3 separate regions of the Homo sapiens genome follow, and regions 2 and 3 are each linked to region 1. Evidence: fine-mapped expression QTL. A gene starts in region 1. Each other region holds a variant in brackets. All regions are shown on one strand. Distances are from middle to middle. Region 1 holds the start of MSRB2 (methionine sulfoxide reductase B2). Region 2 overlaps LOC107984215 (a long non-coding RNA gene). Region 3 has its middle 280 kb from the start of KIAA1217.

Region 1 (8,184 bases):
GACTTTGCTTTGATAGCAAAATGATGAACGCTCAGTTGGGTACACCCAGGTCAGGTTATATGTGGGCTGTATCACTTTAAGAGGTTTCTTTGACCTGGATGTTATGAGCTGAATTGTGACACTCCCTGCCCGCCAACTTCCAAATTCATATGTTGAAGTCCTAATCCCCAGTACTTTAAAATGTGACTGCATTTAGAGACAGGGCCTTTAAAGAGGCAATCATGTCAAAATGAGGCCATTAAGAGGGGGCCCTGGTCCAATAAGACTGGTGTCCTCATAAGAGGAAGGGACAGCAGAGAAAAGGCCGCCTGGGGACACAGCAAGAAGGCAGCTATCCCCAAGTTAAGGAAAGAGGTCTCAGGACAAATCTCAGGACAAGTCTTGGCCTTGGACTTCCAGCCTCCAGAACCGTATGAAAATGAATTCCATCGTTTAAGCTGCCCAGCCTGTGATATTTTGTTATGGGATCCCTAGCAAATGAACACACTGGGGCTTTAGAAAACAACCAAAGTTTAAATAAAAATTACAGTATGAGTAAATTCTGAGCAGTTTTATCAAACAGCAATTTAGGCACGTGTAAATTAGATACACGACAAGGTCTCTCACTTGGGAATGAGTCAAGTCTTCTGGCTACCGTGGCTAGAGAGAGGTTTCAACACTGGCTGTGTCCTTTTCTGTGTGTGTGCAGGTATTTTCTGTCCTCTGCACCACGTGCTCATCCTTTGGGGGCTACACATTTTCCAGATTCCCTCTACATTCTCTTGCTATCTTCACTATGAAAACATTTATCGGTTGCTGCTATTGCATGAGATAACTACACAGCTTTACTTTGAATTATGCCTTAATAAACTCAAATTCCTTGGAGTTCCCTTCTCTCTGTGTGCTGTGATTTGCACAGGCCATATATTTTGTTGGTCAGAAGTTCTACGGGGTGGGCCTCGATTTTTTCATCCCTAAGGAAATCCACTCTTGGTCCTATGGTCACCTACTGGGTGCCTCCTTCGGGTTTTGCTAACCTTCCTGGCCACAGTTGCTATACTGCCAATTGTCACACATAAGCCCACTCCATTTTGATAAATAATGTGTTGAATCTAATGGAACTCTTTAGAAACTGGTATTAAAAGAATCCCCAGCCCATTCTGATCTGCAGAACTAGTCTCTCCCACCAGTGCCTGGACTATTTTAACCCTATGCCCAGGACAGTTTCCTAGCATAGTCATCTCTAGAAAGAATATTTTCCTGAAGCAACAGATTTTTTGCTCCAGAATATTTCTTACTTTCCTTTTTCAGTTTGCTCTTTGTCAATCTGGATTAAAAAAAATCACTCTAAGCATATGAGAAATTGCAGCACTGGAAAAAAATACTGTCATTTCAATATCTTCTCATTTCCCCCCTCCCAATGTCTCCCTCTCTCTCAACACTCCCGAAGCCCATGATGTAAGTTAAATGTAGCTACATTTTTGTCCTTTCCACTTATTTATGTAATCATAACTAACATTTATTGTGTGCCTAAGTGTCAAGCATTGTAACAAAATATTTAATTAAAAAGTTATTCTTTACAACAACCCTACCATTATCATTATCCTTATTTGACAGAAGGAAAAAAAATCTGAAGTTTAAACTTTCCAAATTCAAGAAACATGTCCAAAGACATTGTTACAAACTGAATATTATATGTTCTCCCTGCTCCTCTCCCCACTCCCATATGCTAAAGCCCTAACTCCCAATGAGATGGAATGTGGAGGTGGGGCTTGGGAGGTTATTAGTTTTAGATTAGATCATAAAGGTGAGGCTCTCTTGAGGGATTAGTGGTCCTTCCTGAGACAGTCACCTGAAGGCAGAGTGAGAAGGCAGTCAACTGCAAGCCAGGAAGCAGGTCTGCATCAGGAACCAAATCTGTTCCCACCTTGATCTTGGACTTCCCAGCCTCCAGAACTGTGAGAAAATGTTGTTGAAGCCACCCAGTCCACGGTGTTTTGCAATAGCAGCCTGAGCTCAGACACAGAGCCAGGAAGTAACCGAGAGCCAAGACTCAAAATCTGCATCTATTCATACCCAAGCCCTTCACCACAGAAATACTCCGTTTATCATTTTTAATGGCTGCCTAACAGTTTGTTGGATTGAATTTTCATGATTTACGTAAGTATTTCTTAACTGATTTGGGTTACAGCCAGTTTCCATTTTGTAAGAGACTAGTGCTTAAAGCATCTTTGCATATATCTCTTTGTTCTTCTTTTGAACTATTTCCTTCGAATAGATTCCCAGGAGGGGTGTCTGATAAGGTACACAGCTCCTGTTACCTACTGGTGGCTGGCCAAATTTTATTGTTGCTGGAGAACTTCAGATCCCAGGGCAATTCATTAGGCTGCTTCTGACAGCAGCAATTACAGCCATGAAGTAGTTACCGCTAAAACCACCATCCTTTTTCAAGGGGTTATAGAGAGCTCGTCGGTAACTGTGACCTGTTTCTATCACCTGTGGTTCTCAGCAATACAATGCTTGGCACACAGTAGGCTCACAGCAAATGTCATCAGACTGACTAGAGACACCAGTGATTAGAAAGGCCATAGCTGGAAGTCAAGTTGGATGAGCTAACATTCCACAACGCCAACGCTTTTATTTAGTTACGTATTCTTTCAATATTGCATTTCGAAAACTTCAGGGGCTAAAAAGAGCTCAGAATGAGTTGGTACATTTTCATCAGTTGGGTATCTCTGAATGTCTTCAATGAACACATATAAAATTGGATTCAGAGTGGGTCAGTCTGGCAACCGCCCAGGAAGCCAATCCCCTGGGGCACTAAGTTACCCTGAAATAGAACTGAAATACAGGGGTAGCTGGCACAGGTCTCCCGAGGTGACTCCTTCCTGCTTGGTGAAATGTGCAGGTACCCAGATCCAAGAGAGGATCCAAAAGTATTTAGCAGAAACACACACACACACACACACAGAGAGAGAGAGAGACACACACACACAGGCTCGCCCTGGTCTCTGTCTCAGTCATTAACAATGGCTGTCACCTTAAAGAAGGAACAAATGATCAACCCAGTCTCCCTGGCTCTTAGACACATTTATGGGAAGTCAGCAGGGCAGGAAACACTCACAGGAACCCCAAGTCTGAACTGCCTGCTTCTCAGATGCTGGAAGGAAGCCCGCGGAACTACGAAGAGGGCTGCAATGCAAAATACTAGGGGCCTTCGCAGGGGCGCGCGGGCCGGGCTGCTACAGCCCAGGCCCCGGGCCTTCGCCTGGAGTCCCCGATAGGGGTCAGAGGCCCCCGAGCCCCACTTATGCCCCCACTCCCCGAGCCAAGAAAAAAAAAATTATGCGCACATTTAGGGGGATCATTTGTTCATTTCCTCGGATTCTCACAGGGGTCAGTCCCCACCCTGCCGCCACCAAGTTTACAATCCACTGTCCCAGATCCTCGGGCTGGGGGGGGGGAGGGGCGCGCCGAGGAGGGCTTAGTAGGAGGGCAGCGCCCGGCCTGGACCGGCCCTAGGCTCCCGGGTGCAGCCGGTGAAATGAAGCCGAAAGCCGTAGGCGGCGGCGGGGCCTGCGGGACCCGCGTCCTACCTGCCTCCCCCAGTCCCGGCCCGGTGCCGGGCCCGCCGCCGCCCGCTTGGCCCCGCACCGCCCGCCGAGGCGCAGTTCCGAGGGTCAGGCCCCGGAGCAACCAGAGGAGCCGCGCCATGACGCCCGCTCCGGCGCCGCTCCGCCCTCTGCCCTCTGCCCGTCTCTGCCCCTGCTCCCATCCCACCCCTCCCCCATTCTCTCCCGTCCGCCTGCGCTAGTCGGCCTCCCTCCCCACGCTCCGCCCACACCGCCAGTCCCCTCGTCTCCCTCCCCCTCTTCTCCCTCCCCTGCCCCTCCCTCCTTCCCTCCTTCCCACCTGCTCCTCCCACTATGTGCCCTGGGCCCTCCCAGGTCCCCGCCCCTCTTTCCTCCCACTCTGCCTCTCTCTCCCCCTCCCTCTTCCTCTCCTTTTCCCCTTGCCTTTCCTCCCCCTTCCTCTCCCCCTTCCTCTCTCCCTTCCCTTCCATGAGACCCTCCCCAACCCATCTCTGCATCTCCCAGCTCCTCCCACTCCTGCTCCTCCCTCGCCCTGCCCCCCTCCACCTATCCCAACTCCACTCATCCGCAGCCCAAACACTGATCTGTTTTAGTTTGCATTTTCTAGAGTCGTCCATAAATGGAATCATCCCATATGTACTTGATTTTGTCTGGCTTCTTTCACTCAACATAGTTACTTTGACATGCCTGCGTGTTTTTGCATGGAACAATCATTCATTGCTTCCTGAGCAGTATTCCATTTATGGATATACCACCGTGTGTTTAGTCAGCACTTGATTTAGCCTGCTTTCAATTTTTCCTGATTAGAACTACAGCTGCTAGGAACATCCCTGTGCAAATCTTTGTACAGACATATACGGTTTTTCCTCTCTGGGGTAAATACCTGGAAGTGGAATGCCCAGGTCGTAAGGTAGGTGTAACCATTTAAGAAACTACTATACTGTTTTCCCAAGTGGTTTTTTTCTTTACCTTCCCACTAGCAGTCTATGCGAGTTCCAGTTGTTCTTCATCCTTGCCAACACTTGAAAGTCCAGAGATTTTAACTGTAGATGTTCCGGTTCTGTGTAGTGGTAGCTCATTGTGGCTTTATTATGCATTCTCTAATCGTTAATGATGTTAAGCATCTTTTCATGTGCGTATTTGCAGCGAGTGTATTTTCCTTGGTGAAGTGTCCGTTCAGATCTTTTGCCCATTTAATGTTGAGTTGTTTCATTATTGAGCTTAGAACACTTTATATATTTTGGATGCAAATCTTTTATCAAACATATGCTTTACAAAGATTTTTTTTCCCAGTCTCTTGTTTGTCTTTTCTGTCTCCTAATATTGTCTTGGGAAGAGCAGTTTTTAATTTTGATGAAGCCCAATTTATCAATTTGTTAATGGATTGTTCTTTTTTTGGTATCATATTTAAGAAATCTTTGCCTAATCCAAGATCACAAAGATTCTCTCCTATGTTTTGTTCTAAAATTTTTATAGTTCTAGGTTTTACATTTAGGTCTCTGACCGATTTAGAATTTTTATATATGGCCAAAATTTTTGTTTTGTTTTGTTTATCTGTTTTGTTTTTTGCATATCTATATCCAGTTGTTCCAGCACCATTTTTATTGATTGATTGATTGATTGATTGAGACAGAGTCTCTGTCGGCCAGGCTGGAGTGCAGTGGCACGATCTTGGCTCACTGCAACTTCCATCTTCCAGGCTCAAGCAATTCTTCTGCCTCAGCCTCCTGAGTAGCTGGGATTACAGGCGTGTGCCACCACGTCTGGCTAATTTTTGTATTTTTAGTAGAGACGGGGTTTCACCATGTTGGCCAGTCTGGTCTTGAACTCCTGATCTCAGGTAATCTGCCTGCCTCGGCCTCCCAAAGTGCTGGGATTACAGGCGTGAGCCACCAGGCCTGGCTCCTAGCACCAATTTTTAAAAGACTACTCTTTCTCCACTGAACTGTTTTTGAATCTGTCAAAAATCAGTTTCCTATCAATGTGTTGTGTCTATTTCTGGACTTCCTATTTTGTCCCATTAATTAATTTGTCTATTTTTACATCAATATTACAATATCCTGATGACTGGACTTGCAACCAGCTAGCATTGGTACTGTACCTCTGTTCTTTTTTAAGGTTGTTTGGGCTATTTTAGGTCTTTTGTATTTCAACATAAATTTTAGATTCAGTCTGTCAATTTCTACACATGATCTTACTTAAGTTTTGATTGGGATTGCATTGATTCTATCCATAAGTTTGGGGGAAATTAATATCATAACAATATTGAATCTTTTGACCCATGAATAAAGATATGCCTATCTATTTATTTAGGTCTTCCTTAACACCTACTAGTAGTGTTTTGTAGTTTTCACTGTATAGGTTTTGCACATCTTTTGATAGATTCATCCTAAAGCATTTCATATTTTTGATGCTGTGGTATTGTTTTATCAATTTCAATTTCTGATTGCTAGTATGTAGATTTTGTATATTGATCTTGTATTCTGTAATCTTTCTAAACTCATTTCTTAGTTCTAGTAACATTTTATGGATTTTATCAGATTTTCTACATAGAAAAATCATGTCATCTGTGTAGAAAGAGTTTTACTCTTTCTTTTTAATACAGATGTCTTTGATTTCTTTTTCTTGCCTTATTGCACTGGTTAGAGCCTGCGCAGTGTTGAATAGAAATGTTGAGAGTGAACATCCTTGTCTTGTTCCTGATCTTAGAGGAAAAGTATTCAGCCTTTTACCATTAAGTATGATATTAGCTATAAGTTTTTCATAAATTTTCTATCAGATTAAGGAAATTTCTATTTGTAGTCTACTGAGAGTTTTTATCAGGAAGGGATGTTGGATTTTTGTCAAATGCTTTTCTGCAGCTACTGATATAATCATACCTTTTTCCTATTTTCTTTTTGTAGTTTGTTACTTGATTTTCAAACGTTAAACCAACTTAGTATTTCTTCAATAAAGCCTGCTTTGTCAGTTTTATTATTTGTTTCATGTATTGTTGGATTATGTTCTATGTATCATGGATTACATTTTTTTAGAATTTTTGTGTCTGTGTTGATGAAGGATGTTGGACTGAAAGCTTCCTCTCTTATAGTATCTGTCTGGTTTTGTATCTGAGTAATAAGTAAACAAATTCAAATCCAGAGAGGATAAGTACCTTGTCTATGATCACACTGCTAGTTAGTTGAAGAGTTTGTAAAGTTCCCCTAAAGTTTAGAATTTAGAAAATATCAAGGAATACCGGTTTAACTCACCCACCTTCACCCCCAATCCCAAGCAAAGTTAATAAATTAACTTAACATTGTGACATTGTGGGAAAAAAATCATGGAGTCTGGTGTAAAACACATTCAAGTCAGAATATCTTAAATTTAAAAGACGCATGAGCTTGATCAAGTATTCAACCTGTGACAGATCAGTTTTCTTATCCCCAAAATGGGGTTATTGTAAGGATTAGATACAACATACGTTAAAACACCTAGCAAACCCTTTGGTACATACTTGGTTTTAATAAACGTTAGTTGTTATTGAAGATTTAATGAGGACAACGGTAATTGGTAAACAGAGCTGATAACCAATCTATCCTTGCATTTCTACATATCCTCACACTCCCAGAAAGACATTCTAAGCACAGAGGAAGTCCCTCCCTCCCTACCACCATTCTCCTTTACACCTGCTAGGAGGACCTTTACCTCATCTGTGATCAAGCCCTTACTGGTCTTAAAATGTCCCCTCTTCTCACCACCATTTATCTGAATCCAACTTAACCATCAAGGCCATGCATTAACCTCACATTCTTGGACACATGGTCTTAGCCTGAACAAAACTCTACTTTATGTTTTCCCTTTTACTTTGTACACTGAGTGGTAGAGACTATCATTTGCCTGGCCGATATCCACTCTCTCTACTTACAAACAGATCTTTGATTTTATTAAGAGTAGCAATATGCCTAGCTAAAATGTTACATCTGTCAGCTCCCTTGTAGTTGGTGGCAATCATATGATGCTGTTATGGGCAATGATAGGAGCAGACATCACTGGGAGCTACCAGGAAAACTAGTTAAAGAGGAGCTGGCTCAGCACTGGACTTTTGCTCTGTCTTTTGTTTCTGCTTGGAAATTAGTCATGATGGCTGGAGCACTGGCAATCTTCTGGTATACATGAAGATGAGACCCACATCTTGATTTTAAAGAAGTAGAAGACATGAAGGAGCCCAGGATTCTGAAGACAGTGTGGAGTCAATATGCTAGTCTTGGATTGCCTGCCTTCAGATTTCCAATTACATGAGAGACCAATAAATCTATATTTTGTTTAAATCACTGTTACTGGGATTTTCTGTTTCATGAAGTTGACACAGTGTATATCTGATGTCCTGAATTTGATTGTGAGAATCTTCAGGAAAGGCAAAATTCTATAACTTTGACTCTTTGTATATCCAACACACTTCTCTGCAAACTATAAATTTGATAATAAAATCCCTAAAAGATAGGATAGAATGACCAAAAAATGGGAGATAAGTGCAAAAGCCAATTTGCTTTTCCCTACCAAAAACCATTTGGGAAAGAATGAGGGACTGGAATAAGCTTTACACAATTAATCTGCACTGAAAATACTTTATCTG
Region 2 (8,184 bases), 23 kb after region 1:
AATGTACGGTCTGTACTGTGGCTTTCGTCATGATAAAGTGAAACCCCACCCTCATGCCTATCCACATCATGGCAAAGCTAGAGAGTAGTCAACCCATGACAGGTTCATGAAATGACAATGTTTTAAAGATGCAGTCATCTTACCATTCATAATTAAGAACTGAACACACAGAGTAATAGGAGTTGATTCTTCCAAGCCTTTGCAAGCATTGTGCTGAATTTTAGACCAGAAGGGGCCTTAGAGGTCATCAGATTCAAACTCTTTATTTGCATTTTAGCCAAATGAGATCCATAGAGGCTGATACTTTACCGAGTTTCACACACCTAAAGGATTAGACACAGATCAATAACTTGTATTTTCTGACCTCTAATGCAGATTCTTTATGCTTCACTATGCAAATGCAAGATTGACCTCTTCTGGTTCCCTTGTGTTTTTTAGAGGCGGAGCTGTTTTTCCAACAACTTTTATGCACTACAGGACCCTGTAGGAGGGCCATAGTGAAATCGAGATGATCAAAACGATCATAGCTATTTTGTCTTGATTATCTCAACACATTCTATTTTTTGTTCTCCGTTTATTATCCTAAAGGCCCATGTTTTGATTAAATGTATTCATTTTTTTGTTATAATGAATGCATACACTTTATTTAAAAGTTTCCATTTTACTGCATGTCTTAACAGCTGAATAAGCAGGCCATTGCAGCCTATGTTGATTACATTTTACCTCCCTTCTCTTTCCTTGCCTAGATCTGTCTGGGTTTTTGGATGATTGACTTACAAATGAAAAAGCAGAACATCACATTCCACTTCTCTGAAAGCCAAGTTCATGTGGATCTAGTAATTATCCACACAGGGTAGCATCTATTTTCATGCTTTTGTTAATAAATAATCTTCACTTGAATAAAAATCATCTACTTCTTGATTAGTTATTATTTATAATTTTATAGAACGTTATACTTTCAAATTATGAATTAAAGAGGCATCATCTGCAAACTCACCATACTGTGACTGCTACCTCGTTTAAGGACTTAACAAGTATTTATTACGTGTTTGTGGAAGGTCATAAAATGAAGGACAAGGTATTATTTCCATCTTCATGCACCTCTAACCAACTCTGGCAGTTAATATGTAGATTCACGTGAATGAAAACACAACTGGGGATAAGCTGGGAAAATCCGGGATAGTTTCCTAAAAGGAGTGAGATTTGAAGGAGGTATGGATAGAGAGAGAATTGGGGAAGCTGGAAGATGCAAGAGTAGCAGTGCAGCTTGTAATCCCAACACTTAGGAGGCTGAGGCAGGAGGACCACTTGAGCCCAGGAGTTCAAGACCAGCCTGGGCAACAAAGTGAGACCTCGTCTCTACAAAAAAATACAAAAATTAACCAGGTGTGCTGGTGCACACCTGTAGTCCTAGCTACTCAGGAGGCTGAGGTAGGAGGATTGCTTGAGCCTGGAAGTTGGAGGCTGCAGTGAGCTATGATTGCTCCACTGCACTCCAGCCTGGGCAACAGAGTGAGACCCTGTCTCAAAAAAATATATAATAAAATAAAAACAAAAACAGAATACCAGAGCAAACAGACAGACATAGAGAAAAGAGCAAGCAGGTTATTTATGAGAACTATGTTAGGTTATAAATAAGAACCAATATCTAACATTCCTTGAATTCCAGGAACTCTACTGATCCCTGTATGTTTTTGATTTTTTTCCTTTTTGTATGTTTGTTTTGTTTTAGACAGGGTCTTGCTCTGTCACCCAGGCTGGAGTACAGTGGTGTGATCTTGGCTCACTGCTGCAGTCTCTATCTCCTGGGCTCAAGTAATCCTCCCACCTCAGCCTCCCAAGTAGCTGGGACTGCAAGCACATACCATCATGCCCAACCAATTTTTGTATTTTTTGTAGAGATGCGGTTTCACAATGTTGCCCGGGCTGGTCTCAAACTCCTGGGCTCAAGTGATCCTCCCACCTTAGCCTCCCAAAGTGCTGGAATTACAGGCATGATACACTGCACTTGGGCTCTGTTATTTAGTTTTTTACAAGACTTGTGTCATTTGCCAAACTATGTTAAGTCAAAAATTTTAACACTCCCCACAACCCAGCGCACACACAGGCCACTAATGGAAAACTTAAGTCAGGCATGCACACTCATTAAGTGCCAGCCAGGAATGCTCTGTCAATCCTAACACAGGAATGCCTGACAAGTCAAGGCAGCTGAAGACTCTCTTTGGTCCATGAGGTGCTATCTTCCTGTGTTGTAAGACAGAACGCAGAAGGAGCTCCCTTTTGCAAGGCTAAGGGATAGTGTGGCTCCCAAACAGTGAAAGAGAATATCACAGCACTCACACCATGATGAACAATAGGCGTCTGGAAGGTCACTTACACCAATGTGTTTCTTTTTCCTCTTCAGAGTAAATTTTTAGGAGCTAATCTTTCTGGGAGCTCCACTAAGAAGGAAATCAGAATCTCATCCTAATTTGAGTCAATATTCTAAGAATTTTGAGGCACAAACATTCATTTTTTCATTTATTTTGAGACATGGTCTCTCTTTGTCACCCCGGCTGGAGTGCAGTGGTGCCATCATAGCACACTGCAGCCTTCAGCTCCTGGGCTTAAGTGATCCTCCCGCCTCAGCCTCCTGAGTAGCTGGGACCACAGATGCATGCCACCATGTCTGGCTTTTTTTTTTTTTTTTTGTAGAAATGGGTATTGCTGTGTTGCCCAGGCTGGTTTTGAACTCCTGGGCTCATGCGATCCTCTGCCTCAGCCTGCCAGATTGCTGGAATTACAGCCATGAGCCACAAAATATCCTTTAGAGAAGGGAAATGATATCCTAGTTCTTTTCCTGAGGACTTTTATTCTATTCCACTTCCTGATCAGGTAAAAAGTGTTCTGGGAAACCCTGCCTTCCTTATTATTTTCTTTAAGTTCTCTCCTTTTCTCCAACATAGAATTTATGGAAATTGGAGTGCCTGCAAGAAGGGAGACTTGCCTCTGATCCCCTGGCCAGAGGCTTAACAAGCCAGACTAAAGAGTGGTGGGAGAATTTTTTAGAATACTTGACATGAATTCTCTGGAGTTTGGGGAATACAAGCACACAGGGCCTGCTGCCAACTTTTGTTCTGGAGCGTTCTGAAAGAGGAAGGTCCAGTGGAGAGTTCACTCTGCATCAGCAAGTATTTTTTTGTTTGTTTTTGTTTTTTGAGATGGAGTTTCGCTTTTGTTGCCCAGGCTGGAGTGCAATGGTACAATCTCGGCTCACTGCAACCTCCACCTCCTGGGTTCAAGTGATTCTCCTGCCTCAGCCTCCCAAGTAGCTGGAATTATAGGTGCCCGCCAACACGCCCAGTTAATTTTTGTACTTTTAGTAGAGACGGGGTTTCGCCATGTTGGCCAGGCTGGTCTTGAACTCCTGGCCTCAAGTTATCCCCTCACCTCAGCCTCCCAAAGTGCTGGGATTACAGGCCTGAGCCACTGTGCCCGACCTTCTTTTCTCAGTTTTGAATTGTTGCATTGAGATATTAATTCCTTACTTTTCATTCCTTGTCTCAGGCATCTCAGAGCTTCGACTGACTGAATATATGCAGAGTCCAAAATGAGATAAACAAGCAGTTGAGTATACTTTTATTTGGCTCCAATGCCCTCAGTGTGGTCACAGCTGTCACCGGAAGGTTATTCATTTTGCAATTTTGTGTTCTTGTTTCTAGTGCTAATCTCTCCAGGGCACCG[G/A]AAGGTTATTCATTTTGCAATTTTGTGTTCTTGTTTCTAGTGCTAATCTCTCCAGGGCATTAAGAAGGCTAGGCCGGGCGCGGTGGCTCACGCCTGTAATCCCAGCACTTTGGGAGGCCGAGGCGGGTGGATCATGAGGTCAGGAGATCGAGACCATCCTGGCTAACAAGGTGAAACCCCGTCTCTACTAAAAATACAAAAAAAAATTAGCCGGGCGCGGTGGCGGGCGCCTGTAGTCCCAGCTACTGGGGAGGCTGAGGCAGGAGAATGGCGTGAACCCGGGAAGCGGAGCTTGCAGTGAGCCGAGATTGCGCCACTGCAGTCCGCAGTCCGGCCTGGGCGACAGAGCGAGACTCCGTCTCAAAAAAAAAAAAAAGAAGGCTAAAATGGGAATTGCGTGGGTTATTAATAAAGAGACTTTGATTCAGAAATTCACAAAACTGCACATCTCTTTCAGTTGTAAGCCAAGGTGATAGTTTACTTTTCAGGACTGAGTAGCATCTGTCCTATTTCTTGCTACACAGACATTGGGAAAGAAAGAGTGAAACTAGCCAGGTGCAGTGGCTCATGCCTGTAATCCCAGCACTTTGGGAGGCTGAGACAGGAGGATCACTTGAGCTCAGGAGTTCGAGACCAGCCTGGGCAACATGGCAAAACCCCATCTCTCCAAAAAATACAAAAATTAGCCAGATGTGGTGGTATACACCTGTAGTCCCAGCTGCTTTGGAGGCTGAGGTGGGGGAATTGCTTGAGCTCATGAGATTGAGGCTGCAGTGAGCTATGATTACACCATTGCACTCCAGCCTGGGCAACAGAGCGAGACCCTGTCTCTATGTAAAAAAAAAAAGAAAAAGACTCAGGCTAGCCTAAGTGGGAGATTTTTTTCAGATTCTAGGCAAGTGGTTCTCAAAGCGTGGCCCCAGACCAGAGAAGCAGGCTCACCTGGAGCTTGTTAACAGTGCAAATTCTGAGGCCTCATCCCAGGCCTAATAGAATGGCTATTTCTGAAAATGGGGCCCAGGAATCATCAGCGTCCAGCTGATTCTGATGCCCGCTGAAGTGTGAGAACTGCTGCTCCGTCAGTCTAGTGTGAGAACAGGTGCCTTGAATTGAATCATGCTATGAGTACAGAGAGCACATTTCAGCTTCCTGTACTGCAGTCTAGCCAGGTTAGCAAATACAGGGTCATAGTTAATAGCTGGGACACTGAGGACCACTTCTCTTTTAAAGTGGCTTGTGGTTTGGGAACACCACTCCTAAGCCTTAGTTAATGGCGTCAGTAATTACTTGACTGCTTACAATTAGATAATGGTGTCAGCAAATTGGGTAGTTAGTAGCCAATCTTCTGAGGAGCCACCTGAACATGGGCACAGCCCATGGCTGAGTACCCAACCATGACAAAGGGCACATCGGAGACAGATAACCAGATACTATAGAACACATTATTTCTTGAACTGCAACAACCTTGTTACTCCAGACAGAAGAATATTAGCACTTGAGTCACCCAATCTCTGTCTCCCCTCTGTTTTTCTGTGTCCTTTAACAGCCTCTGTGACCCCTGTTTTAAGTGCATGTCCACATCTGCATTTTACAATGGTTTCTATAAAATTGTGACAAGAACGTTCCATCGGAATGTGCAATTAAAAGATAAGTGCTGCCATCAGCACTTTTTTTTTTTTTTTTTTTTTTGATGGAGTCTTGTTCTGCCACCCAGGCTGGAGTGCAGTGGTACAGTCTCGGCTCACTGCAACCTCTGCCTCCTGGGTTCAAGCCATTCTCCTGCCTCAGCCTTCCTAGTAGCTGGGATTACAGGCATGCCTCACCACGCCTGGCATTTTTTTGTATTTTTAGTAGGGGCAGGTTTTCGCCACATTGGCCAGGCTGGTTTGGAATTCCTGACCTCAAGTGATCCGCTCGCCTCAGCCTCCCAAAGTGCTAGGATTACAGGCATGAGCCACCGCACCTGGCCCATCAGCACTCTGAATAGATCTTTCTAATCACTTGAACCCAGGAGGCAGAGGTTGCAGTGAGCCGAGATTGTGCCATTGCACTCTAGCCTGGGTGACAGAGCGAGACTCCATCTCAAAAAAAAAGATCTTTCTGGGCCTTAACTCCAGCAATAGCCAGAAGAGTGTGTGTGCACCCAGCCTGACCAGGACAGTCTTCTCCCTTTCTCATGCGTTTCTGTCTTAATGAGATGGGCAATTGCTAAGGAGAACTTCGGTGCCAGAGGATGGCAGCCAAAGCCTACCTGCCCTGGGCTTCTCCCTATACATGGAGACACTGCTACCACCTAACCCACTACTACCCTGCCCCAACCATGGCCAGTTCTTCCTCTTGGACACATGTGGGAACTGTTGTTCCTTTTTGGGAAATGCCATCATTCTTCTTTGTTTCACTGTTGTCACTATGAGACCCAGGGACCTGAAAACAAATCAATTAGAACAAGATAGGAATTAGCATGTATCAAATAAGACTGAGGAGTAATTACTGCGTGGGTGAACCTGTGCAAAAACAGTCACGCTGGTCGCATATTTATGTCCTGCCATTTGCTAGAAACTTTCAAGCGTCTACTACTGTTACTTTAAAAATGTCTACATGGAAATTCTATCCCCAGCCTAACCTGAACTTAAGCCGGCAGATGAGGATAAGGCTCCCCAGCCTCCCGGAACAAGCAGACAGTTATTAATGGAAATGTTCCACCAGTTCAGGTATGTGCTAACATCTGTTAAAATTGCATTTGTACAGGATTGCATGAATTACTGATACATGAACACATTGCTTTAGCCAAACACAAGCTTTTATGATTTCATGATGAGGCTTCCCAGAGTTCTAGGTTATGACAACCTGACTTTCAAAGTTACACGTTAAAGCAATCTGTTTGCATCCCAGGCTGACTGTGCAGAAGAGATTTGCGGTTGGGACAATCTGCCATTTAAAGAGAATGAGGTCTCTAGTCATTAAGGGAGACAGAATCTGTGGCTGGGACTTTTTCTGGGGCATCCTGAGTAGGTAGCTGTGTGGCCTGTCACAGTGCGGTTTTTCAGAGGAATGTGTGTCATGCGTAGAATAGAGAAATTTATTCCTGAGCATTTTAATTTTTTTTAGAGACAAGTTCTTGCTCTGTCACCCAGACTGGGACACAGTGGTGCAATCATGGCTCACTGCAGCCTCAAACTCCTGGGCTCAAGTGATCCTTCCACCTCAGACTCCTGAGTAGCTGAGACTACAGGTATGCACCAGCATGCCTGGCTAATTTTCTTTCTTTCTTTATTTTTTTTTTTGTAGAAATGGGATCTGACTATGTTGCCCAGGCTGCTCTTGAACTCCTGGGCTCAAGCAATCCTCTGGCCTCAGCCTACCACAGCTTTTGGATTACAGGCATGAGCCACCTGGCCTCTTGAGTGTCCTTAAATAAAAATCAGCAGGTGCAAGTGCCAGGGCCTTGTCAAGCCTCCACTATTGCTGGATCGACATCTCTTCTGCCCATGGCTTTTCCCAGGATCATCTCTGCATTGCTATAGACTCCGCCATCTGTCTCACCCTGCTTTTGAGTTGGTGCATCTTACTGGGGGCTCTAGACAAATTAAGCATTGTTGTGAAGTGCACTGGCTCCGTGCTGAACTTGCTTTTTATTCCACCTACCTTCTTATAAAAAATGTTTTGGAAAGTAAGGGATCAGAGAAGGTTTCTACAGTTTTGGTGCATTATTAGGCCAGGTCCTTGTTTCAGTCTCCACTTAGCCTAACTAAAGACACCTTCCGCTCTGTAAAAAAGGTTATCGTTATGGATCCTGTGGGAATTGGTGGCATGAAGGGACCACTAGGGGGCGCCCAACGCCTCAGAATAGTCCACCTTTAAGTCTCTAGGCCTGGTCCTGGAGGCTCTTGACTCCAGGCTTCCCTAAGGTTCCTGGAAGGCCTTCATGTGTTATTACTGGTTGGACAGAGAAGAGCACTGCCAGCCCCAGATGGGAGTGAGAAGGCCGGTCGGGGAGAAGGTAAGCAATTGAGAAGGCGGAAGGGGCAAAAGGAAACTGGAGAGGGCGGCAGGAAGAGAGAAAAGGAAGAGAGCAGAGGCGTGGAGAAGAGGAAAAGAGGAGGGCGGGGAAAGGGGAGGCTGCGTTTTGCAGGACTGGGCAGCTCCAGAGACAGTGGAACACCGGTGTCTTTTTGGACCCTATGGTACATAGGGGGACAGGGAAGGAGCCCGGTTTGGGCTTAACTGGGGGATGCTGGGAGTCTCTCTGGTCCAGGAGGTCTTAGGCATCTGTGTGCCTGAGGCTATCTGGGTCTCCCCAGTGTCTCCCCACACACCTGTGCCAACTTGCCCACTTCATACTTTTCCTGTTGCCTTCGATTCACAACTCGCCTTGCTCACGTCCTTCTAGAAAAAAACGGTACGTGTTGATGTCACTACCTCCCCGTGGAAGCAGGAGGGGAGGGTGGAGAAAGTGGATTT
Region 3 (8,184 bases), 830 kb before region 1:
CACGTCCTGGGTCTCTGGAACCCTAGTCCAAAGCAGTACAGTCATCTCAGAAACTAACGCACCCTTCCGGTAAAGATGGCATTGTCCTCTGAAGTTTTTCAAAAAATATTATTTGGTCTGAAACTCTATTCATTTCTCTCTTCAACTCTCCCTGCAGAATGTGATTACACAGCTTGCAGGGAAGACGTAAAGCTGGGATGCAAGCGAGCAGACCCTAGCTCCACAACGCCTAGCAGATAATAAGCTGATTTTATTATATGAGAAGTAAAACTGCCAAAATAATAGCAATCAGCAGCAATGTTGTGATGCTAAGGCAAAGCCTCTACAGCTTTTGTGCTATTATAAACTGCCCATAGTTCTAGCTAATCAACCAATCGTTCATACCAGGTTCTTATGGTATTCAATTTACCTGTCATAGCAACAACCTAAAAACAAGGGTGGTCCTTACATATGGTTCCAATTTCATATTTATCAATTCTTCTAAGCACCTTTATTCTTATTTATTTTTGCTTCATTATTATCCCAAGTAGGAATTTAAGGCCAGGATGCTCTAAAGAAACTCACACAGTTGTGCAACCAGGTCTTTTATATCTGCCAACTAGAAAGTAATGATTAATATAATCTATTTGGCTACTTTGAAAAGAGATAACATCTCAGGACTTCAGAACTCATGTTTTTTAATGTAAAAACAAATAGTAAATGTCAGTGGTATGGGGTAAGATGATGCTAAAATATTACTATCTAAAAATCATAAAGAAAATGCTCCATGAGAATAGGGTTTAACAGCCTCTGGGAAAGTTTATATGTTAAATTTTTACCAGTTATTCAACACTCCCACACACACATTTCTTCAAAGTTGTGTATTAGGCCCAGAGTTGAGGATACATTATATTGCTCAAGTGGCTTTTAACAGTGAATGTTTTCACAAATCTCTAAAGTTGCACTTTTTTTTTTTTAAGACTAGAAGATTCTGGTTCAATTTGTACATTTTGCTGGGCACATATGGGACCATCAACAAATAGTTGATGAATGAATGAAAATTGTATTAAATAAGCGAGAGCTAAGCTATTTTCATCAATTACATTTTTGGACCCTGCAGGCGACAGTCCTGACTTTTCTCACAAGCTGTGATGAATATCAACCCCTTTCTCCACCAAATGCCTTCTTTGCCCTTCTCCATGTCACCTTTGTCCCAGGAGGTCAACTTCAGGACTGCACCAAGGACTCACTTGCCCCTCAGCTTCTGGTTACCTTCAGCCAAGAGGAGGCACCAGCAGAGATGGAAGTTGGAGGAGGGAGAAGCCCAGGTGTGCATTCTTCTGCTCTCTCCCTGCCCTCCCTGCCGGGCTGCTCTGGTTGTTTCATTTACCAACTGCCACAGCTCTTGCCAGCTGGTCTTTTCTGGAGTCTGGTAACTGGCCCCATTTTTTGTCCCTTTAGACAGGGGGGTAGTGACAGCTCTTGTATCCTCCAGCCCTGGAGGACTGCATTATCCTTTACTGTCCAAGCCTTTGCAAACAATCCCTTTAGTAAATGCTCCTTAATTTCCCAGCTTGAGTAAACCATCTGTTTCCTGCCAGGACTCTTACTGATACACAAAAGTTTTAAGAAACTGCATATCTGCCATATATTAAAGTAAAATACGAGAAGATGAAACTAACCCCACCCATGAGAAAGGAAAGTGGGGCTCGTTTGTGATAGGTAACCAGACACTTTTGGGTCAATCTGATGAGGTTTCCTATAGCTGACCAGGGATAATCCATCCCCCTATCATGACCATGTGGACATTTGTGTCAGGCATTGGGAGGGTGCAGGAAGATTATTAGACATAATTCCTATTTCAAGGAGTTTCCAGTCTAGTTGGTGGATAAAGCTCACACTATGATCAGTGCAAGACAGGGTGTAGGTAAATGTTAGATGGGATGGCCTTGACACAGTGACTCTTCTTTCTCCAGGTCAATTTAGGTACAGGGGTGAAGGGCAAGGGCATAGGTGAGTGGAGGACACACCAAAGTCCCCAGATTCTAGATTCAAATTTTGGCTTTGCTGTTTCCTGGTTATGCGATCAAGGACAAGTCACTCTTTCCCTCTGGGGCTCAGTTTGTTTATCCATGAAATGGACAAGCTAATGCTGATACCTATCACTCAGAATTATTGTAGGAATTATACAAGAACATCCATGTAATGAATTTAACATAATGTTTGACCCCTAGGAAGAACCCAATAAATGCTAGTTGTTGTTATAAGTAAGACATGGTAGAAGCAGGCGGGGTGAGTTAGCTTGCAGCCTAGAAGTAGGAACTATAGAAAATTATAGAAAAGTATTTAATAGAATATTCTGTTGCTACATTCAATATGATGATAGTTCCACCAGACTTAAGATATGCATGTATTCTTTAATTGCAAAAAAGACAATGAACTAGAACTCCTGTATAATTGGGTGTATCTTCAGGAGACCAAGGGGAGGCACACGTGAGGAAGGACAGGCTCAATACCAAAGGGCCATCTAAGAAGGTGAAACATACAACAAGGTCACATGATTGTTAAGGGCAGGAAATCCAGGCCTCACCCTCAGGAGTCCATGTTCCCACTGAGTTAACTTATGTAAATCAGAGCTCGAGTGCAATGAAGGAAAAGAGAATGTCCTCCAATGTCTTTTTCCTGATGAATCACAGATACACTGGAAAAGTCTATTTCACTGACTCTGATTTCTGTGCAAATTGTAAATAACTCACTTCTCATATTGCCCTTTCCAAGCAAGATGCAGAAATTGTAATTTCTGAAAGGCCCTGCCAATTATCTTGCTAGTATATCTGTGTGCATCTTGACTGTAAGATGCAAACCAGTTTTAGAAACATTCGAATGTGAAAAAATGTCTGCTGCCGAGTTGAGAGCAAATAATACAGGATGTAGAACAAATGTGGACATAGCTCTTTGGAAGCACCACCACCCTTCATGAGGACTTTCGACAATTTTTTAGCTTGCATATTTAGATAATAACTATATAAGATGACATAGAAACAGATGTTATAGAAGGTTGACATTTTTCTGTATATATATTTAAAGATCCTGGGG[T/C]TGATTTTTTAAATCCCTTATTTCAGAAACATAAATAAATCAATAAGAAAAGCACCAAATAACCCCATTTAAAAGTGGGTGAAGGATATGAACAAACACTTCTCAAAAGAAGACAAACTAGTGACCGAGAAAGATATGAAAAAAATGCTCAACATCAGTCATCATCAGAACAATGCAAATTAAAACCACAATGAGATATCATCTCACACCAGTCAGAATGGCTATTAGCAAAAAAGTCAAAAAATAACAGATGCCAGCAAAGTTGTAGAAAAAGGAGAATGCTTATACACTATTAGTGGGATTATAAATTAGTTCAGCCCCTGTGGAAATCAGCTCAGAGATTTCCCAAAAAAAGAGGAATGCTTATACACTATCAGTGGGAATATAAATTAGTTCAGCCGTTGTGGAAATCAGCTCCGAGATTTCCCAAAGAACTTAAAACAGAACTACCATCTGACCCAGCAACCCCATCACTGGGTATATATCCAAAGGAAAATAAATTATTCCACCAAAAAGACACCTACATTCATACGTTTATTGCAGCACTACTGACAATAGCAAAGAGATGTAAGCAACTTAGGTGCCCATCCACTGTGGATTGAATAAAGAAAATATACCTCATGGATACTACGCAGCCACAAAAAAAAGAATGAAATCACGTCCTTTGCAGCAACATGGACGCAGCTGGAGGCCATTATCTTAAGCAAATTAACACAGGAACAGAAAACCAAATACTACATGTTCTCACTTACAAGTGGGAGCTGAACACTGGGTACACGTGGACTTAAAGATGGGAAAATAAACACTGGGGACTCCAAAAGTGAGGAAGGAGGGAAGTGAGCAAGTATTGAAAAACTACCTATTGGGTACTATGCTCACTATTGGGTTCAGCAGAAGCCCAAACCTCAGCATCACACAATATCTCCATGCAGCAAACCTGCACATGTGCCCCCTTAGTCTAAAATAAAAAAAAATAAAAAATAAAATAAAATCCATTATTTCAGTGAGTTCATATTTTTTTCTTTCTAACTGATGCAGACTTTGTGGTGGTTAGCCATGAAGAATTGCATGAATAATTGACAATAAATGAGAGATTTTGTGTTTTACAATTTACTTCATTTTATTTCTTAGCATAGCAATATTAAAATAATAATAATAAACATTCCATCTCCTTTTCTTGGCTTACAAGGCCCTACCTGATTTGGCCTCTGCATAACCACCTCATCTTGTACCTCTTCTTTCTGCCTTGCCTGGCACACTGATCTTCTTTCTGGTCCTCTATCATGCCAAGCTTGTGTACGCTGGAACCTCTGCCCTTACAGTTCGTTGTCTAGACCTTTGCATAGTTGACTTGTCATTCAGACCTCAACTTATAGGTCATCTCCTCAGACAGAGGGGCCTTCTGAGACCTCTCCAGGTAAGATGGCCACAGAGTGGCTATCACCTTGCCCTTTTTAAATTTTCAATGTGGAAGTGAACAAAACAAAATCTGGAACCATATTGCCTGTGTTCAAGGTCTTTACTACTTATGTGAACCCTTGAGCTATAAGTGTCTCAGTTTCCTTGTCTGTAAAATGCGGATAATAATGGTATCTACCTCATGAGGTTGTTGGGGGCATGACACGTAGTAAGCACTATGTAATTGTATGAGTGTAATTCCTTGCTCATTGACCGTTTTCCATCTTCAAAGACTTTAAGTTACAGGAGAACAAGGATCCTGTCATGCCCTGTTCAGTACTCCATCCCCAGGCCCTAGAGTAATGTCTTGCAAACAGTAGGTGCTCAATAACTACTTATTAAATGAATGACCATATACATTTATATAAACAAATAAATGAACAAATCATCATTTGCTAATTGCATGATGAACAATTCATCAAGCAATTAGCAAAGAGAAAGATCTATCATGCCACGGAAAACTAAAATTCACCGCAAATTCTGGGAAGCTGCTTTCTCAGGTAACTGTTTGAAAAGCAATATTTTCCACTAGAATATGTGATTTGCTTTCAAAGAAAGAGCTAGAAACAACGTTTCCTCCCCCAGTCCATCTGGACCGTGGCCCTACCAAGCCTAAACTGCTCTCAGGGGACCCTGTGCTGCTCGAAGGAGCTGCCAGATGTGGCTTCCTTGTGAAATACACAAGCACAATGTCTCAAAGAGGGACTGAAATGCTTGATGATTAGGCAAAAGCCAGCCAAGCCTACAGAGGTAGACAGCTTAGCCATTGTTTCTTTTAAGCTATGCTTTTTAACAGATATCAAGTACCCTGCCAGCAGCCCATGATGCTGGTCTGCTGGGTGGACGAGTTACTGCATCTGGCCTAAAGTTTAACAGCACAAGTCCTTCAGTGATTGAATTAGGCAAGCTTATGATTACCATTTTTTCCATTTAATTAGCTGTTTTATATGTGTATTTCCTCCCAAGTCTTATGTTCAATGTGACATTTGGTTTATCGCGCACTAGTTTCAGAAGTAAGCCTGAAAAAGAATCTTACTGTCTCCGGAGGCCTGAATAGCACATCTGTTTATATGGGAATCTGCTGCAGAACCCCCAACACGGAAACCAGGTGACATTCAGGGAGCTCAAAGCAAGAAAACATTCAGAAGCATTTATTCTGGGAAAGGACAGAGGGTTTATAAATCTCATCCTGAAAATATATAACCAAAAGCCTAGTGCATCACCATTTTGTCTTCCTTAAGATTCTACTTTCATGAGCTCACATAATCACTTTCAATCACATATGAGCATCTCACAGCATGTCATCCTTCTCTCACAGGAAAATAAAATTTGATTTTGATCCTTCAAAATCTACCTCTGATTTACTACTAGTTTTGTGTGGCACTAATTCTCATAATATTTTCACGTTACACTTTAAATAGAATAATGATCAGTGGTAATGCAAGAGGAGAACCTCAATGTATAGAAAACATTTGGCCACACACACACACACACACACACACACACACACACCCTATGACTTGCTAGGGTGAGCCTTGTGAGAGAAAATGGAACTACTGCTGGAACAGAAATAACTTATAGTAAAAATTTTCAGGCAGTTAAAATAAATAAGATAGACCAGGCACTTTGGGATCCCAGCATAGCAATTTATAAATAGGATCCCAGCACTTTGGGAGGCTGAGGTGGGAGGATCACTTGAGATCAGAAGTTCAAGATCAGCCTGGACAACATCAGAAAATCTGTCTCTACAAAAAATACAAAAATTAGCCAGGCATGGTGGTACATGCCTGTGGATCCAGGTACTCGGGAGGCTGAGGTGGGAGGATTGCTTGAACCTGGGAAGTCGAGGCTGCAGTGAGCCCAGATCACGTGACTGCACTCCAGGCTGGGCAACAAAGTGAAACCCTGTCTCAAAAAAAGAATAAATAAATAAACAGATAAATAAATAGGATAGACTGCTGTCTCAAATAACTTTCTCTAAACACAGAGGAAGAGAGATAAAGATTGAAGGATCGAAAAGAGGGAGGAAGAAAAGAGGGAGGAAGGGAGGCAAGCAGGTAACAATTTTCCAGGCACTTTATTTATTTATTTATTTATTTATTTATTTATTTTTGAGACAGAATCTTGCTCTGTCACCCAGGCTGGAGTGCAATGGCATGATCTCAGCTCACTGCAACCTCCGCCTCCCGGGTTCAAGCAATTCTCCTGCCTCAGCCTCCTGAGTAGCTGGGATTACAGGCGCCTGCCACCACGCCCAGCTAATTTATGTATTTTTAGTAGAGACGGGGCTTCACCATGTTGGTCAGGCTGGTCTTGAACTCCTGACCTCAGGTGATCCACTCACGTCGCCCTCCCAAAGTGTTGGGATTACAGGCGTGAGCCACTGCTCCGGGCCTACCTTTGAAACAGGACTAATGCACATCTCATATGGAAATATTGACAGCATTCTCTATCATTCTTAGCATGGTCATCATTTTCATATGAGATGTGTATTAATCCTGTTTCAAAGACAAGAAACTCAAGTATTAGACTTTTCTTGACTTCTGTTGCCTCCTTTTGTATGCAGAGAAATTAAGTGGCTACACTTCTGCCCCTGTATTTTATTTTTTCCCAGCCCCCTCCACCCATCCCGGCCCTGGGTGGGAGAACTGACTGAATCTAATTAAGGAACAGGGAGGAGATACTGAGCCTGTGTAGATTCCCCTTCTTCCTTCTTTTTCCTGAGGACCAATGCACCTGAGCTGATTTTCACAGCTGCTTTGCCAGGTGCAGTCTCTGCCTCAGTATGGGGAGGTCTGCCTGGATCGAGGACCACAGTGATGGGGTGTGGGTAAGTATGCGCATTTTGAAATCCAGTATGAGAAAGTTTATTGGCCTTCATATATAAGCCAGATTCCCTTTGACTCAGAATACAGGTGCTGTTTTGACACCCATTTGCTTTACTACTTTGCATCAATTCTCAGCTGATCAAAACTCCTGCAGAAAAGAGGAGTATTATTTTATTGGGCCTCTTTGGATCCCAGACCCTAAGCTTGTAGGAATTCATTTACTTGCTTAAGGCCACAGAGCTGGAAAGAGACAGGGACCAGAAATGAATCCAGTCTGTCTACAGTCACTTAGGGCGTGTTCCACTTCTTCCCTCCATGATCACAGAAGGGCAGCACCTCATTCTGAGATGGCAAGTCCTGAAGGATGATTAAAGGCTCAGGGAAAACTGATGCCTCTGCCTTCGAAACATGGAACACAGCATAAAAGTGAACTTTGTTAAGCTGCAATTCACTCAGAAAAGTCTTTCAAAAGCTTGGAAATGTATTAAACGAGTTGGAAAAGTCCAGCGACAGTCAAAAGAGACTGATCCTTGCAGAATGCAGAGAGGAGGTGGGTTGAGGGCAGAAGGCAGGACTTAGTATGTATCGGCCCTTAATATATCTATAATTTCTTTCATGTCTCTCCACTAGAATGAAGCTCCGGGAGTTTTATTTCCTGATGCCTCTCTAGTGCCTAACCCAGGGCCTGGCACTGGCTTAGTAAATATTTGTTGATCAGGGGCATGCCTATGTATGCTGAAAGAGAAGAAGGAAAGCAAGAAATTGCCAGCCTTTGTAAGTTGTTTCCTTATCTTTTTCCTTCTGCTTCTACTGACATTGCTGC

The links.
Region 2: its variant is fine-mapped to the expression of MSRB2 in whole blood (TOPMed, PIP above 0.99). The same link has a PIP of 0.9 or more in blood mononuclear cells, monocytes and neutrophils.
Region 3: its variant is fine-mapped to the expression of MSRB2 in whole blood (TOPMed, PIP above 0.99).

Annotation. Positions count from the first base shown.
Region 1 is chr10:23,091,118-23,099,301 of GRCh38, reverse strand. MSRB2 (methionine sulfoxide reductase B2) reads right to left here and starts at 3,723. Exons shown (of 5, transcript NM_012228.4): 1 at 3,576-3,723. The coding sequence starts at 3,693. LOC107984215 (a long non-coding RNA gene) reads left to right here and starts at 4,023. Exons shown (of 3, transcript XR_001747394.2): 1 at 4,023-4,482. RefSeq lists a silencer at 3,446-3,915.
Region 2 is chr10:23,067,725-23,075,908 of GRCh38, reverse strand. It overlaps LOC107984215 (a long non-coding RNA gene), which reads left to right. Exons shown (of 3, transcript XR_001747394.2): 2 at 6,341-6,434. Among named protein-coding and RNA genes, the nearest start is that of MSRB2, 24 kb to the left of the region's middle. RefSeq lists enhancers at 5,100-5,209, 7,455-7,749. The variant G/A (reference allele first, on the strand shown) is at 3,724.
Region 3 is chr10:23,925,187-23,933,370 of GRCh38, reverse strand. It overlaps a transcript of KIAA1217 not described here. Among named protein-coding and RNA genes, the nearest start is that of KIAA1217, 280 kb to the left of the region's middle. The variant T/C (reference allele first, on the strand shown) is at 3,076.